Linked DNA regions of Homo sapiens: region 1 is linked to region 2. A link means that fine-mapping ties the variant in region 2 to the expression of a gene that starts in the linked region. Tissue or cell type: monocytes after LPS. Region 2 holds a variant in brackets; the other region holds the start of a gene. All regions are shown on one strand. Distances are from middle to middle.

Evidence for each region. PIP is the estimated chance that this variant, and not a neighbour inherited with it, causes the effect.
Region 1: RNF122 starts here. The variant in region 2 is fine-mapped to the expression of RNF122 in monocytes after LPS (Quach 2016, PIP 0.95).

Annotation. Positions count from the first base shown.
Region 1 is chr8:33,562,726-33,570,827 of GRCh38, forward strand. It overlaps RNF122 (ring finger protein 122), which reads right to left and starts at 4,403. Exons shown (of 6, transcript NM_024787.3): 1 at 3,974-4,403. The coding sequence starts at 3,998. RefSeq lists silencers at 3,778-3,827, 3,968-4,017, 4,048-4,117, 4,168-4,287.
Region 2 is chr8:33,539,129-33,547,217 of GRCh38, forward strand. It overlaps the pseudogene LOC124900261 and the pseudogene RPL10P18. Among named protein-coding and RNA genes, the nearest start is that of RNF122, 24 kb to the right of the region's middle. RefSeq lists a silencer at 6,713-6,782. The variant G/C (reference allele first, on the strand shown) is at 3,340.

The sequences.
Region 1 (8,102 bases), 24 kb after region 2:
CCAACCTGGCTAACATGGTGAAACACCATCTCTACTAAAATACAAAAATTAGCTGGGTTTGGTGTCTGGCACCCGTAATCCCAGCTACTCGGGAGGCTGAGGCAGGAGAATTACTTCGACCTGGGAAGCGGAGGTTGCAGTGAGCGGAGATCACACCACTGCACTCTAGCCTGGGCAACAGAGAGAGACTCCCGTCTCTAAACAAAACAAAACAAAAAACCTGGGCATGGTGGTGCACACCTGTAGTCCCAGTTACTCGGGAGGCTGGAGCAGGAGAATTGGTTGAACCCGGGAGGCAGAGGCTGCAGTGAGCTGAGGCAGAGGCTGCAGTGAGCTGAGATGGCGCCACTGTGCCCCAGCCTGGGCGACAGAGTGAGACTCAAGAAAAAAAGAAAAAAAAAAAAAAGCCTGAACCCTCCTAGGTTTGCTGACTCCAACTTGGACTTTTGTATATTCTCCAGTGTCCGGCCTAGCCTAGAGTTTGGCTTGTTCTCAATAACTAGTTAACAGATAAATAATTCCCCATTTTCTTAAAATAACCTGGTCCCCTTGGCAAAACCTCCCACTTCAAAGCAGCAGGACTGATGTTTGGGAAAATTGCCCAGAAACTGCCCTCCGCTAATGGATCACCAGTCAACCAGCAAGTATTATTGAGGGCTTGCTTTATGCACTGACCTACACATTGTGGGAAAACAGAAAGTAGAAGTTCTTGTTGTGAAAGACTTTTTGATTAAGTTGAAATGAAAGAAATAATTAGCTACTAAACTTTGCTGTGCCCAACAGGAAGTTCCTTGTGTCTAGGCTCTAGTAGGGGTTAGAGAGAAAGTGCTTTTCACCACCAGTCCCCACCCAAATATTTACTTTCTGTGGGTCAAAGAAGAACAATTTTCCATGAGGACATCATGGCAGACTGGCTAGAGTGACAAACTTCAGTCTATGCTGGAAAAGGGGCTCAGGACTTCCCTTCCAACAAGACCTGGTGCTCCCAGCTGTTTTCTCACCTCCTTCCCCCGCACTATTTGATGTTACAAGAGGGTCTAACCCCCCGTTTCCTTAGTTCTTCCAGGCACCTTTTATGAGCTGAAACCTCCTTTGGTTTCCAGTTCTGGGAACTTGCAGAACCTGGTCAGAGCTATTACAGAGGATATCTGTGCACTCCACAAGCACGATGGTCCCCGCAAGTCCTCTGATCAGTTTATCCCCACCAACTTATCCTGCCTGATAAAGGCTTCCCCTTTATCTCCCACTGATTGAATCAGTGAGCTTGGTATTTCACGTGATAAAGAGGTCGGTGGGAAGAGCATAGTCAAGAGGAGATGGTTCATTTGCTTGTGTTACTATTAAAGAAATGGCAAAATAGTCTACTGGTCAAAAGCTGACACTGTAGTAAGTTTTTCTTTAAAACTGTATAAGGACAGAGAATACCAGCCCCAGGAAAGAGGGGCTCCAGGTAGTTTCTGAAGGGGTGAGGGAAGGGTTGCTTCTTCACAGGAGTCAAAGGACAGGATCTCTCAGTCACTTTTCTAAGAAGTGCAAAGAGGGCCAGACAAGGTGGCTCCTGCAGGTAATTCCAGCATTTTGAGAGTCCGTGGTGGGAGGACTGCTTGAGCCCAGGAGTTCAAGACCAGCATAGGCAATGTAGTGAAACCCTATCCCCAAAAAGTAGATTAATTAATTAATTAATTAAAAATTAGCCAGTAGCCAGGTATGGTTGCACACACCTGTGGTTCCAGCTATGCTGGGAGGCTGAGGCAGGAGGATCCCTTCAGCCTGGGAGTTGGAGGCCGCAGTGAGCCCTGATCGTGCCACTGCACTCCAGCATGGTTGTCGGAGTGAGACCCTCTCTCAAAAAAAAAATTAAAGTAGGCTGGGCGCAGTGGCTCACGCCTGTAATCCCAGCACTTTGGGAGGCTGAGGTGGGCAGATCACCTGAGGTCAAAAGTTCAAGACCAGTCTGAACAACATGGAGAAACCCCCTCTCTACTAAAAATACAAAATTAGCCGGCCATGGTGGCACATGCCTGTAATCCCAGGTACTCGGGAAGCTGAGGCAGGAGAACCGCTTGAACCCGGGAGGCGGAGGTTGTGGTGAGCCGAGATCACACCATTGCACTCCAGCCTGGACAACAAGAGCGAAACTCAGTCTCAAAAAAATAAAAAATAAAAAATAAAAAAAATAAAGCAGCAAGTCTAAAATCTGATATGAAAGGGCGCTGCCCAGAAAGGGCAGTGTTACTGACAGCTGCCTCATTTCTCCCTAAGTCTCTGTTCCATTGTCTCGGCCAACCTATGAAAGCACTGACATCAGAATGTCTCATCTCATCTGGCAGGCTGGGAGCAGGAATGACGTCAGACAAGGGCTGGCCAAGAAAGACCAGGGGATCTGGGAACTGCTTCTCTTTCCCAGCCAACGGGAATCTTTCCCAGATGCTAGGGTGCAAGGGCCTTCCTCAACCCCCATCCTCTGCCCCCTCTCCCACAAAACCGCCTATCACACACGGCTTGGTTCATTTTCAGGAAATGAGATCCGACCAGCAAAAGGAGGAAGGCGGGGTGGGGGGATGTGGGGTATACATGCTACCCAAACCCTGCCTCAAAACAAAGCCTCTTGACATAATTAATCCAAGATCTGGCAGGAGTCTACTCTAAAGAATGATTTTTTTCCCCCTGTAACTAGCTCGCTTGCCATACTGAGAGATAAGGCCAGCTGCTTCCCATCTCTCTCTCCCAGAAACTCTCCAAGCATCGGAACAACGCGGTCAAGACTAGGACCCCAGGAGGACTGGAGCGGGTGGGGTGGGGGGCGATTAGTATCCAAGGTTTTGAAGTGTCCCGCTCAGAAACACCTACCTTTCAGGTAGCTCGCTGAGGAATCAGACTCCAGCCTAACCCAGTATCACCTGAACCTCCAAAAAGCCTCAGGTGAAATGAACTAACTTAGAAGCATCACCCAGGCCTGGGGAGAAATGGGGCGAGGGGTTGTCGCGTCTGGAGGTGTGGCCTTCACTTGGGCTCAGGAGCAGACACCCTAATCTGGCCTTGTGGCCAGAAACACGGCTCCCGCCAGGCCAGCCTCGCACCCCAGGGACAGCCGGGCGCGGAGCTCTCTGCGAGGGTTTATCAACTCAGGAAAACGGCTTTTTTTTAGATGGAGTTTCGCTCTTGTTGCCCAGGCTGGAGTGTAATGGCACGATCTAGGCTCACTGCAATCTCCGCCTCCTGGGTTCAAGCGATTCTCCTGCCTCAGCCTCCCAAGTAGCTGGGCTTACAGGCATGCGCCACCACTCCCGGCTAATTTTGTATTTTTAGTAGAGACGGAGTTTCTCCATGTTGGTTAGGCTGGTCTCGAACTCCCGACTTCAGGTGATCCGCCCGCCTCGGCCTCCCAAAGTGCTGGGATTACAGGCGTGAGCCACCGCGCCTGGCCGAAAGCGACTCTTTAATCCAGTCTTCCGCAAGCACCCAAGCCACGCCAGCAGCCCGTGGGAAACCAACAAAGCCAGAGGAAGCTACCCCCGCGCCCAGTCCCGCACGCTGCACGGTATACATATTTACAATAGCCTGCAAAGTTTCAGGCCGGGAACTTGAGCTCCCTCTAGGAGATCCCAGCCCGAGTGCGGATTTAATTCTCCTCCAACAACCACAACAAAGAACAGAGTTTGAGCGCACAAAGGCAGGGGAAGGGGGTAGAAGAGCCGGGCCGCCACACAAAGGCCGGGAACCCCTCGGCTCCCACGCCCCCGGCCCGCCGCCAGTCCGGAGGCCCCTTCCAGGCTCTGGAGTGAAACCTGGATAGTTTCAAATTCCGCGCTGTGCAGAGCAGAGTGGGGCGCCAAGACGCCTTCTCGACTGTCCCATTTCAGGAGAAACTTGGTTCCCGAGGGAGGACCAGCGCGCTGCTGTCCGACCTCGCACCCCGCGCCGCGGCTCCCACCAGCCCCACGTAGGCTCGGCCCTCGCCCCGGGGACTCACCGTTACACCACTGGAATGGGTGCATCAATGAAGTCGCGGTTGGCTTCCTCGGGCGAACGGACGCAGGCGGGGTGCCAGGAGGGCGGGGTGGGAGCACTAGCGGCGTGAGGGGCCGCAGGCGGGGTCGGGGCAGCGCGCTGCAGCCGCCCTGCTGGAGAAGCCGAACTCCCTCCGGAGTGGGGGGCTTTGACGAGGCTGGTGTTCAGCCCAACAAAGAGGGACGAGGAGGAAACAAACAAAGTCCCGCGGAGCACAGCCGCACGGAGCGCACGCGCCAAGGGCCCCGGGCTGGGGGAATGTGGGGCGCCGCGGGGCGGGGGTGCCCGGGCTGCAGAAGCCCTCGGCCGGGGGAGGAGGGAAAAACCTTTGCCGGAGGCTCGGATCGGGTTCAGCGGCGCAGAGGTGAGCTGGCTGGGGTTCCGAAACTGACACCCGGCGGTGCACACCCCCTCCCTTTTACTTCCCCCACCAGTCCCCAGGAAAACTCCGCCCCTTGTTCGTCACCCTCCCTCCGACCAATCGGAGCCTTTCTCCTGCCCCCGGCTATTATTTGCAGGCCCAGCCTCCCTTCCCTGGAAGCCGGGAGGATCTTCGCACGGTGGGCGCCTCCCACTTAGTCTTCCCAGGCCTGGGGAAACTTCGGTCTGCAGAGAATGGAGCGGCGACGAGCGATGCCCCGGAGTGGGGGCCTGCCTTTTGCCCAGGGACACCAAGGCAAAGGAACAATTACTGCCACATTGTTTTCCGCCTACAGATCTGTTATTTATTTACTTATGTATTTGGAGGCAGAGTCTGCCTCTATCGCCAAGGCTGGAGTGCAGCGGCGCGATCTCAGCTCACTGCAACCTCTGCCTCTCGGGTTCAGGTGATTCTCCTGCCTCAGCCTCCTGAGTAGCTGGGATTACAGGCGCTTACCACCATGCCCAGATAATTTTTGTATTTTTAATAGCGACGGGGTTTCGCCATGTTGGACAGGCTGTTCTCGAACTCCTGGCCTCAAGTGATCCTCCTGCTTCAGCCTTCCAAAGTGCTGGGATTATAGGCGTGAGCCACCGCTCCCGGCCCTCTTTTTCTTTTTTGAGTTAGAGTCTTGCTCTGTCACTCAGCTGGAGTGCAGCGGTGCAATAATAGCTTACTGCAGCCTCCAACTTCTGGGCCCAAGCAGTCCTGCCACCTTAGCCTCCCAAGAAACTGGGACCACAGGTGCCTGCCACCAAGCCCAGCTACTTTTTAATTGTTTTGTATAGATGAGTGGCCTCACTATGTTGCTCAGGCTGGTCTCGAACTCCTGGACTCAAGTGATCCTCCCGCCTGAGCCTCCCAGATTGCTGGGATTACAGGCATGAGCCATGGCACCCAGGACATTTCATTTCTTAATTGGATAATTGCAAAAGCTTCCTAACTGGCCATTCTGATTCTAGTCTATAGCTCAGACTTCAGAGCCTACAAGAATCACTCCTATGTTTGAGATGTAACATGCAGATTCCCAGGCCTTGAACCCAGAGATTCTGATTCAATAAAGGGTGGACCCAGAAATTTTCATTTTAATGTGCCTTGTCTTCCCCACCCCTCAAATTCTCATGCGGCTATTGAAAGAAACAGTGCTCTGATTTCACTCTCAAGTCCATCCCTTCTGGTCACAATTATCTCTGTAAAATGTAAATCTGAACATTTCTTTGCTTGATAACGTTTGTTGGTCTCCAGTGTTTACTGAATAAAGTTCTGTAAACTAGAGTGTGGCATTCAAAATGTTTCAGTCTAGACTCACTCCTATAATCTCAAAACTTCGGGAGGCTGAGGCGGGCAGATTGCTTGAGCTCAAGAGTTTGAGACCATCCTGGGCAACATGGTGAAGCCACCTGTAAAAAAAATACAAAAATTAGCTGGGCCTGGTGGTGCGCACCTGCGGTCCCAGCTACTCTGGTGGCTGAGGTGGGAGAATCACTGGAGTTCGAGAAGTCGAGGATGCAGCTGCAGTGAGCTGTGATTGTGCCACTGCACTCCAGCCTGGGCGACAGAATGAGACTACTCTGTTTCAAAAAGAAAAAAGAAAAAACTATTAAAATAAAGTGTTTCAGTCTAGCCTTATTTGTTTCAGTCTTCCTCATACTCAAATACTCCCCTTCACCACACACTATTCATCAGCCATGAAGCTTTTTGTTGTTACTCTTCCTTGAACATAGGCTGTGTATATTCTTTTTTGTTGTTGTTTTTATTTATTTAGAGACAAGGTCTGGTTCTGTTGCCCAGGTTTGAATGCAGTTGCATGATCTTGGCTCACTACAACCTCCACCTCCTGGGTTCAAGCCATCCTCCCACCTCAGCCTCCTGAGTAGCTGGCACTACAGGCACTCACCACTATGCCCGGCTAATTTTTTTTTTTTTTTTTTTTTTGTAGAGACTGGGTTTAGCCACGTTGCCCAGGCTGGTCACAAACTCATGAGCTCAGGCTATCTGCCTGCTTCAGCCTCCCAAGTGCTAGGATTAATGGGGGAGGCTATACATGTGTGGGGCTGGGGGTGTATCAGAACTCTGTACCTTCTTCTCAATTTTGCTGTGAACCTAAAACTACGCTGAAAAATAAAGTCTTTAAAAAAAAAAGTGTGCATAATGGTAACTATTGTTCTTTCTATTCATTGGCTCGGGGGAGAGATGTGATGGGTAATCCTAATTTTATTAAGGCTCTCCTGCTAACTGCCTCCAGCGCCAGACTGTGAAAGAAGGAGAGCCTTTGAAGGGAAAATTGATGGGAAGTGAGGAACACCTCCCGTCCCACTCGCCTTTGGACTAGAGGTTCTTGGAAGGAAAACACCCTTAAAGGTAGGAATGATGGAAATTCTTCTTTTTTTGAAACGGAGTCTTGCTCTGTGTCGCCCAGGCTGGAGTGCAGTGGCTTGATCTCAGCTCACTGCAGCCTTCGCCTCCCAGGTTCAAGTGATTCTCCTGCCTCAGCCTCCTGAGCAGCTAGGATTACAGGTGCAACAATTTATATTTTAAGCCTGATATTTTAAGCATTCAATAAGATCTCCAGAGGCACTTAAGGACTCCAATTTCGAAAAACTGCTGTATCCCTTCACACTCTCCTCCCTTCGTCCCTCCTGGCCAGTGTGGCCACAGGACCTCAACTGATGGCTGACATTGGGAGTTATATGTTGGTAGAAGGGCTTTGGTTCTGGGCATCTTTGAAATGATTGGTTCAGTCCCAGCATTTTCCTGGACTGAAGGGTTCTATGAAAGATAAGCTGATTTCTCACACCATGTCAACCAAATTTAGATCTCTCACTCCTCCACCCTCACCACCAGGTGACTCAGCTCCACATGAGTCAGGAAGACTAGTTTGGTTTATTGAGGAAGAAACTGAAACAGTAAAGAAGATGATGGGCCATATATTCAAAGCTACTTGATAAATATGAGGTAGAAATATGTTTCTAGGATGGGTGTGGTAGCTCACACCTCAGCACTTTGAGAGGTTGAGGTGAAGGAGCTTGAGCCAGGAGTTGGAGACCAGCCTGGACAACATAGCAAGACCCCATCTCTACAAAAAATAAACATCAGCTGGGCATGGCGGCACATGCCTGTAGTCCCAGCTACTCCAGAGGCTGAGGTGTTCAAGGCTGCAGTGAGCTATGATTGTGCCACTAGACACTAGCCTGAGCAACAGAGCAAGACAAAAGAAAAGAAAAGAAAGAAATATGTTTTAAAATCTTCCATGGAAAGGGAAAAAATAATACTAAACTTCCGGAAAAACTTTTTTTTAAAATTAATTAATTTTTTTATACAGGGTCTTGCTCTGTCACCCAGTGGTGCAGTGGTGACATCTCGGCTCACTGCAACTTCCACCTCCCAGGCTCAAGCGATCCTCCCACCTCAGCCTCCCGACCAGCTGGGACTACAGGCGCATACTACCATGCCTGGCTAATTTTCTGGGGTTTCGCCATGTTGCCCAGGCTGGTCTCAAACTCTTGAACTCAGGCAATCCCTCAGCCTTGGCCTCCCAAAGTGCTGGGATTACAGGCAGGAGCCACCGTGCCTGGCCTAGGAAAGCTTCTGAGGAGTCAAGGGATTCTTTTTATTCCCACTGCCTGACTCCAGCTTCCTCTTAGACACTCCGTGAGCCCCCTCATTTTAA
Region 2 (8,089 bases):
TAGCTCAGCATCAATTTAATGGGAGGAAAACTGTAATTTCTAGAATATCTGAGTTTGCAATGGAGATTCATGCTTACAACATAATACTGATGACCACCAACTTGCTTGTCTCTTGGTCTTTGTCCCTCCAGATTTAAAAATACTCTTTCAATTTCTTCCTCATGGCAGCATATATATATATATATATATGCTGGGGTCTCACTATAGTGCCCAGACTGGTCTCAAACTCCTGGGCTCAAGCGATCCTCCTGTCTCAGCCTCCCAAAGTGCTGGGATTGTAGGTGTAAACCACTGTACCTGGCCCCTCATGGCACTTTTTACAGCCTCCCTATTTTTCTGCAGATGTAAAATGAGAGTAAAGGAATCCAATAGAAATTTGGTCAGTATTGAAGGCAGAAAGGACTTCTCGGCATGTTATAATTGTGCTATTGCATTTTGGATTCATTTTGACTTTTTTCTGCCTTATGACCAACTTGACATCCACTATGCTTTCAAATCAATTTCTCCTACACTTAAGAAAATCTAGTTTTTTCTTCATTTAGGTTGGTATTTGATGGCCGCCTTCACATTGCATCAAAGTCGCCATGGATTCTATTCCTGTCTTTGAGGATATCAGCATCATCTTGAGAAATAATAGACATATATAAGTAAACATTCAGAAACTCAGAGCTGGTTGCTGTGGGGGCTTAAACCCACATTTGGGTTAAACCATTTGGGTGTACTCTTAGTAATCTGTGTATCCTTTGAACTATTCATGACTATCGTAGCCCATCAGGAGGGGTTTTGCAATGGCTTGGCATTCTCAGCCATGATAGAGACTAGACTGCGATGAAAGGTGAAAAAAAGAGGAAAGAAAGGAAGAGGGAGAAAAAATGAATGGGAGAGGAGACGAGATTGATAAGAAAGAAGTTCTGATCCCAGTGTGCAATGGCTGCAAACAGCAGCTTTCTTGGTGGTGTACATGGCCTGTTTCTTGTATGGGTTGCTCTAAGGGTCCTTGGAGACAGGCCTTTCAAATGTACGTTCATGTCTCTGACCTTGCACTACCCCCGATGTAGGCTCGAAACAGGCATTCAAGGTGCCTTTGGAAAGCCCCAGGGCACTGTGGCCAGGGTTCACATTGGCCAAGTTAAGTCCATCTGCACCAAGCTGCAGAACAAGGAGCATGTGATTGAGGCGCCATGCAGGGCCAAGTTCAAGTTCCCTGGCCACCAGAAGATCCACATCTCCAAGAAGTGGGGCTTTACCAAGTTCAATGTGGATGAATGAGAAGACATAGTGGCTGAGAAGCAGCTCATCCCAGATAGCTGCAGGGTCAAGTACATCCCCAGTCATGGCCCTCTGGACAAGTGGCAGGTCCGGCACTGGTGAGGGCTTCCACTGTGCTGCTCCCCACCCCCTACCTTTTTTTTTTTTTTTTTTTTTGAGACAGAGCCTTGCTGTGTTGTCCAGGCTGGAATGCAATGGCGCAGTCTCGGTTCACTGCAACCCCCGCCTCCCGGGTTCAAGCAATTCTCCTGCCTCAGCCTCCCAAGCAGCTGGGATTACAGGCGCCTGCCACCACACCCAGCTAATTTTTTGTATTTTTAGTAGAGATGGGGTTTCACTATGTTGGCCAGGCTGGTCTTCAACTCCTGACCTCGTGATCCGCCCGTGTCGGCCTCCCAAAGTGCTGGGATTACAGGTGTGAGCCACTGCACCCGGCCTCTGCCCCATCTTAATACCCACCAATAAATGCTACTTCCTGTCCAGGTAAAAAAAAAAGAAAAAAGAAAAAGAAAGAAAGAAGTGCTGATGTTTAGCACCAGAGAGGTGCCGAAGATGGGAAAGTGTGCTCAGTAGTCATCAAAAACATCTTCTAGTCCTCCTGGCGCTCTCCCTCCTCTACAGAGCACATGCCCTGGTTTCTTTTCTTTTTCTTTCTTTTCTTTTGAGATGGAGTCTCACCCTGTCTCCCAGGCTGGAGTGCAGTGGCGCGATCTTGGCTCACTGCAACCTCTGCCTCCCAGGTTCAAACGATTCTCTTGCCTCAGCCTCCCAAGTAGCTGGGATTACAGACACCCACCACCACGCCCAGCTAATTTTTGTATTTTTAGTACAGACGGGGTTTCACCATGTTGGCCAGGCTGGTCTTGAACTCCTGACCTTGTGATCCACCTGCCTCGGCCTCCCAAAGTGCTGGGATTACAGGTGTGAGCCACTGTGCCCAGCCTGCCCTGGTTTCTTACTGAGACTTTCACATGGGAACAGAATAGGAAGTCGTGCCCATGTACAAAAGTGACATTGGTCAGGTCCTCCTTGCTTCCCTGGCTGACTAGTTTATTAGAAAAGGAATTAAATGGGCATGATTTTAAAAATAAGATAGGTAGGAATCCAGTGCTGACTGGGGTGTCGTAAACAGCTTGATTTTTTTTCTGTGAATGGCACTGGCCACACATGCCTGCATTACTGGTCAGTCTGTCCTTGTCTCTAATTTGATCACATCTGTCCCTCTGAACCTGTGCATATGGCTTCAACAGAAGACTCCCTCTGAGTGAGTCAAGAGCATGCAGGATATTACTCTGACACCCACAAAGATAGAAGAGGGTGGTAGAATGGAAGGCAGAGGTTGCGTCCTACCTTAGTGGGGAAAATATGCAAAACTGGGGAAACATAAGAACCCCAGGTGAGAATGGGAAAAGCCCTGTTGAGGGATGGGTGGCAGAAGTAAGAACTGATGGGAGGGGCCGGGCACAGTGGCTCACGCCTGTAATCCCAGCACTTTGGGAGGCCGAAGCAGGTGGATCACTTGAGGTCAGGAGGTGGAGACCAGCCTGGCCAACATGGTGAAACCCCATCTCTACTGAAAATACAAAAATTAGCTGGGCATGGTAGTGAGTGCCTGTAATTTCAGCTACTTGGGAGGCTGAGGCAGGAGAACTGCTTGAACCTGAGAGGCAGAGGTTGCAGTGAGCCGAGATCATGCCACTGCACTCCAGCCTGGGTGACACAGCCAGGCCCTGTCTTTAAATAAAAACAAAAACAAAAAACTGATGGGAGGGAATAAGGAGGAATGGGAGGGCACAGTCCTTGAAGAGACCCATTGTTTCAGTCTATCAGTCAGGAGTTTTCATATTCTCATCCACGCTCCAATTACTCATTTCATAAATGCTTCTTCAACATAGATTCCTTATTAGCTCAGTGTGGCTATGGGTGCCTGTAATCCCAGCTACTTGGGAGGCTAGGGCAGGAGAATCGCTTGAACCCAGGAGGCGGGGGATGCAGTGAGCGGAGACGGCGCCATTGCACTCCAGCTGGGCAACAAGAACGAAACTCCATCTCAAAAAAAAAAAAAATAAA[G/C]AAACAAACAAACAAACAAACAAACACAGATTTCTTTAAAAGAAGTAATCCACTGTGGAGTTAAAAAAACAACAAACGGCCGGGTGCGGTGGCTCACACCTGTAATCCCAGCACTTTGGGAGGCCAAGACGGGTGGATCATGAGGTCAGGAGATCGAGACCATCCTGGCTAACACGGTGAAACCCTATCTGTGCTAAAAATACAAAAAACTAGCCGGGCGTGGTGGCGGGCAACTATAGTCTCAGCTACTTGGGAGGCTGAGGCAGGAGAATGGCGTGAACCCAGGAAGCGGAGCTTGCAGTGAGCCGAGATCGCGCCACTGCACTCCACCCTGGGCGACGAAGTGAGACACCATCTCAAAAAAAAAAAAATCTCATGGAAGTAGAGAGTAGAATGATAGATACCAGAGGCTGGGAAGGGTATGTGGGGGGAGTGTAAAGAGGGGTTGATTAATGGAGAGAAACATGTAGTTAGAAGGAATAAGTCCTAATATTCCACAGGAGAGTAGGATGATTCAAGTTAGCAACAATATATTGTATATTTCAAAACAGCTAGAAGAGAGGACTTGAAATGTTTCCATACATTGAAGTGGTAAATACTCGAGGTGATGGATACCCTAAATACCCTGGCTTGATCATTACACATTCCGTACATGCAACATATATCACATGTACCCCCAAAACACTTACAAATAGCACAAAAAGAAAACTCACACCCCATGGCCCTAGATAATGACAAGCACACAAATCACTTGACAATTTTCTGGGGTTTTTGTCTTCCCGGATTGCATCAGTCCAGGCATTAATAGCACCTGCCGCTTTCTTATCTTTGCAGAGAGCAATCTGCTTCTGAAGCTACATGTGGCAGCAAACTTAGATCCATACAACCTGGGTTTGTGCCTTGACTCTGATGCTTATTATCTGTGTAGTCACAAGTAAGCTGTTGCTTTTCTCAACATTCTTTCCTAATCCGAAACTCAGAGGGATATATATGGCAGTGGGGGCGGGGCAGGGGGAAGCAGGAAATGCATTTTGTGAAACAACTTGGTGGGTAAATGCTTATTATCTTTGACTGATTGGTGTTTGTTTGCCACAGATAAGATCATTGAAGTTGGAATTCTGGTACCTATGATTATCACCCAGCTTTCTTCAGTTTTTACCTTTTTATTTTTATTTATTTATTTATTTACTTTGAGACTGCATGCAGTGGTGCAATCTTGGCTCACTGGAACCTCGGCTTCCCGGGTTCAAGCGATTCTCCTGCGTCAGCCTCCCCAGTAGCTGGGATTACATGCACCCGCCACCATGTCTGGCTAATTTTTTATTTTTAGTAGAGATAGGGTTTCACCATGTTGGCAGGCTGGTCTCAAACTTCTGACCTCAAGTGATCTAACTGCCTCGGCCTCCCAAAGTGCTAGAATTACAGGCGTGAGCCACCGCGCTTGGCCCAGTTTTTCACCCATTGAAACACATTCAGGGTACAAATTATCCTTCAGTAATGAGAATAGAGCTAAGTACACTGTAGCTGCCCATGGCCATCACATGAACAGAGAGGAAAATTATGTGCTTAGCTCCCAAATGGTGCCCCAATTTTTTTTTCTTTTTGAGACAGAGCCTCACTCTGTCTCCCAGGCTAGAGTGCAGTGGTGCGAATTTGAATCACTGCAACCTCCGCCTCCCAGATTCAAGCGATTCTCCTGCCTCACCCTCCTGAGTAACTGGGATTACAGGCACCCGCCACCACGCCTAACTAATTTTTTGTATTTTAAGTAGAGACAGGGTTTTGCCGTGTTGGCTAGGCTGGTCTCGAACCCCTGACCTCATGATCCTCTCACCTCGGCCTCCTAAAGTGCTGGGACTACAGGCCTGAGCCACTGCTCCTGGCCCAGTGGTGCCCAAATTTTTAAAAAGCCCAACCTAAAGAAACTTCAGAATTCTCACTCTATCAAGTCCCAAGTGTCTGGCCCCACCCAAGACTTCTCTTCTCCAGCCTTCGCCCACCTCAACTTTATTCTCTACAGTTTGCATTCTCTGGTACCCAACAGGCTGTTATCCTGTGTGAGTTTGCCCACACTGCTCTCGAGACTCAGATGTCATATCCCGGCAGGTACCCTCGCAGTTTTCAGAGCAGTGGTGCTAAGGGTCTCTCTGCCATACCAGCCTGCTCACCTAAAATACACTGCTTACACTGTTTTATGAGGCAGGAGTTATCCTATCTCAGCACCTGGCCCAGGTAGTAGGTTCTTTAGAAACACTGAACTGAGTCACAAGACAACGCTAATGACTACAAGTTGATTCATGATTATTTAACTTGTTTTCAGCTGCTGCCAAGTCATATCTGATCAGCTAAACAATATCCAGTTTTCCCTTCTCGGTGCTCCATCATGGCATTCTACCTAACTGTATGGAAGCACTAGAAATAATACAAGGAAGTTTTTCCCCTGTCCTCTTGACTTCAGGACATTGATTTTCAAATTTGTGAACACAGACAATTTAGTGCTAATATTTTAATCAAAATTGGCTGGGCATGGTGGCTTATGACTGTAATCCCAGCACTTTGGGAGGCTGAGGTGGGCAGATCACCTGAGGTTCAGGAGTTAGAGACCTGCCTGGCCAAAATGGTGAAACCCCGTGTCTACTAAAAATGCAAAAATTAGCCGGGCATGGAGTCCTAGCTACTCAGGAGGCTGAGGCAGGAGGATCACTTGAACCTGGGAGGTGGGGGTTGCAGTGAGCCAAGATCGCAACACCACACTCCACCCTGCGTGACATAGTAAGACTGTCTCAAAAAAAAAAGAATAAAATTCAATCAGAATTATGCTAATCTGATGAATTCAACACCAATAAATTTTCCTTAAGAGGAAGGGGAGACGGTTGAGGCAGGAAAGTTGAAGCCAACCTACTGATCATACTTTCCCCATCTGATCCCAGCAATGCATCTACCATGAGGCTGCAGCAGGAGCTGGAGGGAAGGCTCTGTGTTTTGCTTAGGAAACACATTTTATTTCCCACATTAAAGCAAGCTGAGGGTTGCTGGGAGATGATGCGGTACCCCCAACAAAGAAAGGATCAGGCTCCATAGGGTTGGCAGCAGCAAGCTGGAGCTGGTGGCTTCAAGGAAGAGCAGGGGTTACCTCTCAGTGAGGGAAAAATAGGTGGTAAGAACAGGTGTACCCTTGGGCAAAGAACTCCATCAAGACAGGTATCAACAACTGCACCAGGACTGCCAGGTGCCCCAGCTGCACCTCGGGACTGCCCAGCATGAGCACACACTGTGCTGACAGCCTCCATGGTGCAACAACAGGGGTGAGAAGGCATCGCACCTACCTGTGGGGCCTGGAACCTCTGGGTGTATGGGCATCTCCTGCTTACCTATGACACCAGAACAGTATACTTATTCAGCAAACGCTCTTGTTCAACACATAGGGGCAGTATAGGCCCAGCTGCTCCATGCTTATTATGGTCACGAAAATCATTCCCAACATTTTTACTTTTTTTTTGAGAGAGAGTCTCACTGTGGCTGAGGCTGGAGTGCAGTGGTGCAATCTTGGCTCAGTGCAACCTCCGCCTCTCAGGTTCAAGTGATTCTTGTGCCTCAGCCTCCAAAGTAGCTGGGGTTACAGGGGTGCGCCACCATGCCCAGCTAATTTTCCTATTTTTAGTAGAGACATGGTTTTGCCATGTTGGCTAGGCTGGTCTCAAACTCCTGATCTCAAGTGATCTGCCTGCCTCGGCCTCCCCAAGTGCTGGTATTACAGGCCATTCCCAACACTCTTAATGCACTTTGCATGCCCCCTGCTGACTCAGTGCTTCCTTGGGACATGGACAGAACAAAGCTGGAGGGCATGGATGCAAGGTCTGAGTGCACATAGGACCATAAAGCATCACCATGCAACATTGCTAGAGGTGGCAGCAATTGTCAGCAATTGCAGCTACTAGCTAAGAAAAAATAAGAGGCCTGGGCTCAGTGGCTCACCCCTGTAATCCTAACACTTTGGGAGGCTGAGGTGGGCAGATCACTTGAGCCCAGGCATTTGAGGCCAGCCTGGGCAACATAGTGAGACCCCATCTTTACAAAAAATACAAAACCCAGCTGGGCATGGTGGTGTGTGCCTGTGGTCCTAGCTGCTTGGAGGTTGAGGTGGGAGGATTGCTTGAGCCCAGGAGTTTGAGGCCACAGTGAACCATGATTGTGCCACTGCACTCCAGTGACACTGGGTGACAGAGTGAAATCTTGCCTCAAAAATTAAAAAAAAAAAAAAAAAAAAAAGGGGGTGGGCACGGTGGCTCACGCCTGTAATCCCAGCACTTTGGGAGGCCAAGGCAGATGGATCACTTGATGCCAGAAGTTCAAGACCAGCCTGGCCAACATGGTAAAACCCTGTCTCTACTATACACAAATAATTAGCTGGGTGTGGTATCACATGCCTGTAGTCCCAGCTATTCATGAGGCTAAGGCAGGAGAATCACTTGAAGCCAGGAGGTGGAGGTTGCAGTGAGCCAGAATTGCACCACTGCTCTCCAGAGACTCTGTCACCACAAAACAAACAAAAAAAGAGAGATCAGAGCCTCTATGGTAGCAACCTCTATGGTATAACTAAAAGGTAGACCTTTTTAGTTGTGACTAGTTGTGTTAAGGGCACTGACAATTGCTTAAATTACAAGTAGAATTCTTAGTTTCAAGTCTTAGTCGACGGAATGCTGTGATTGAAAATACCAACTTCCTTTAAAAATATGCTAGAAATCAGACG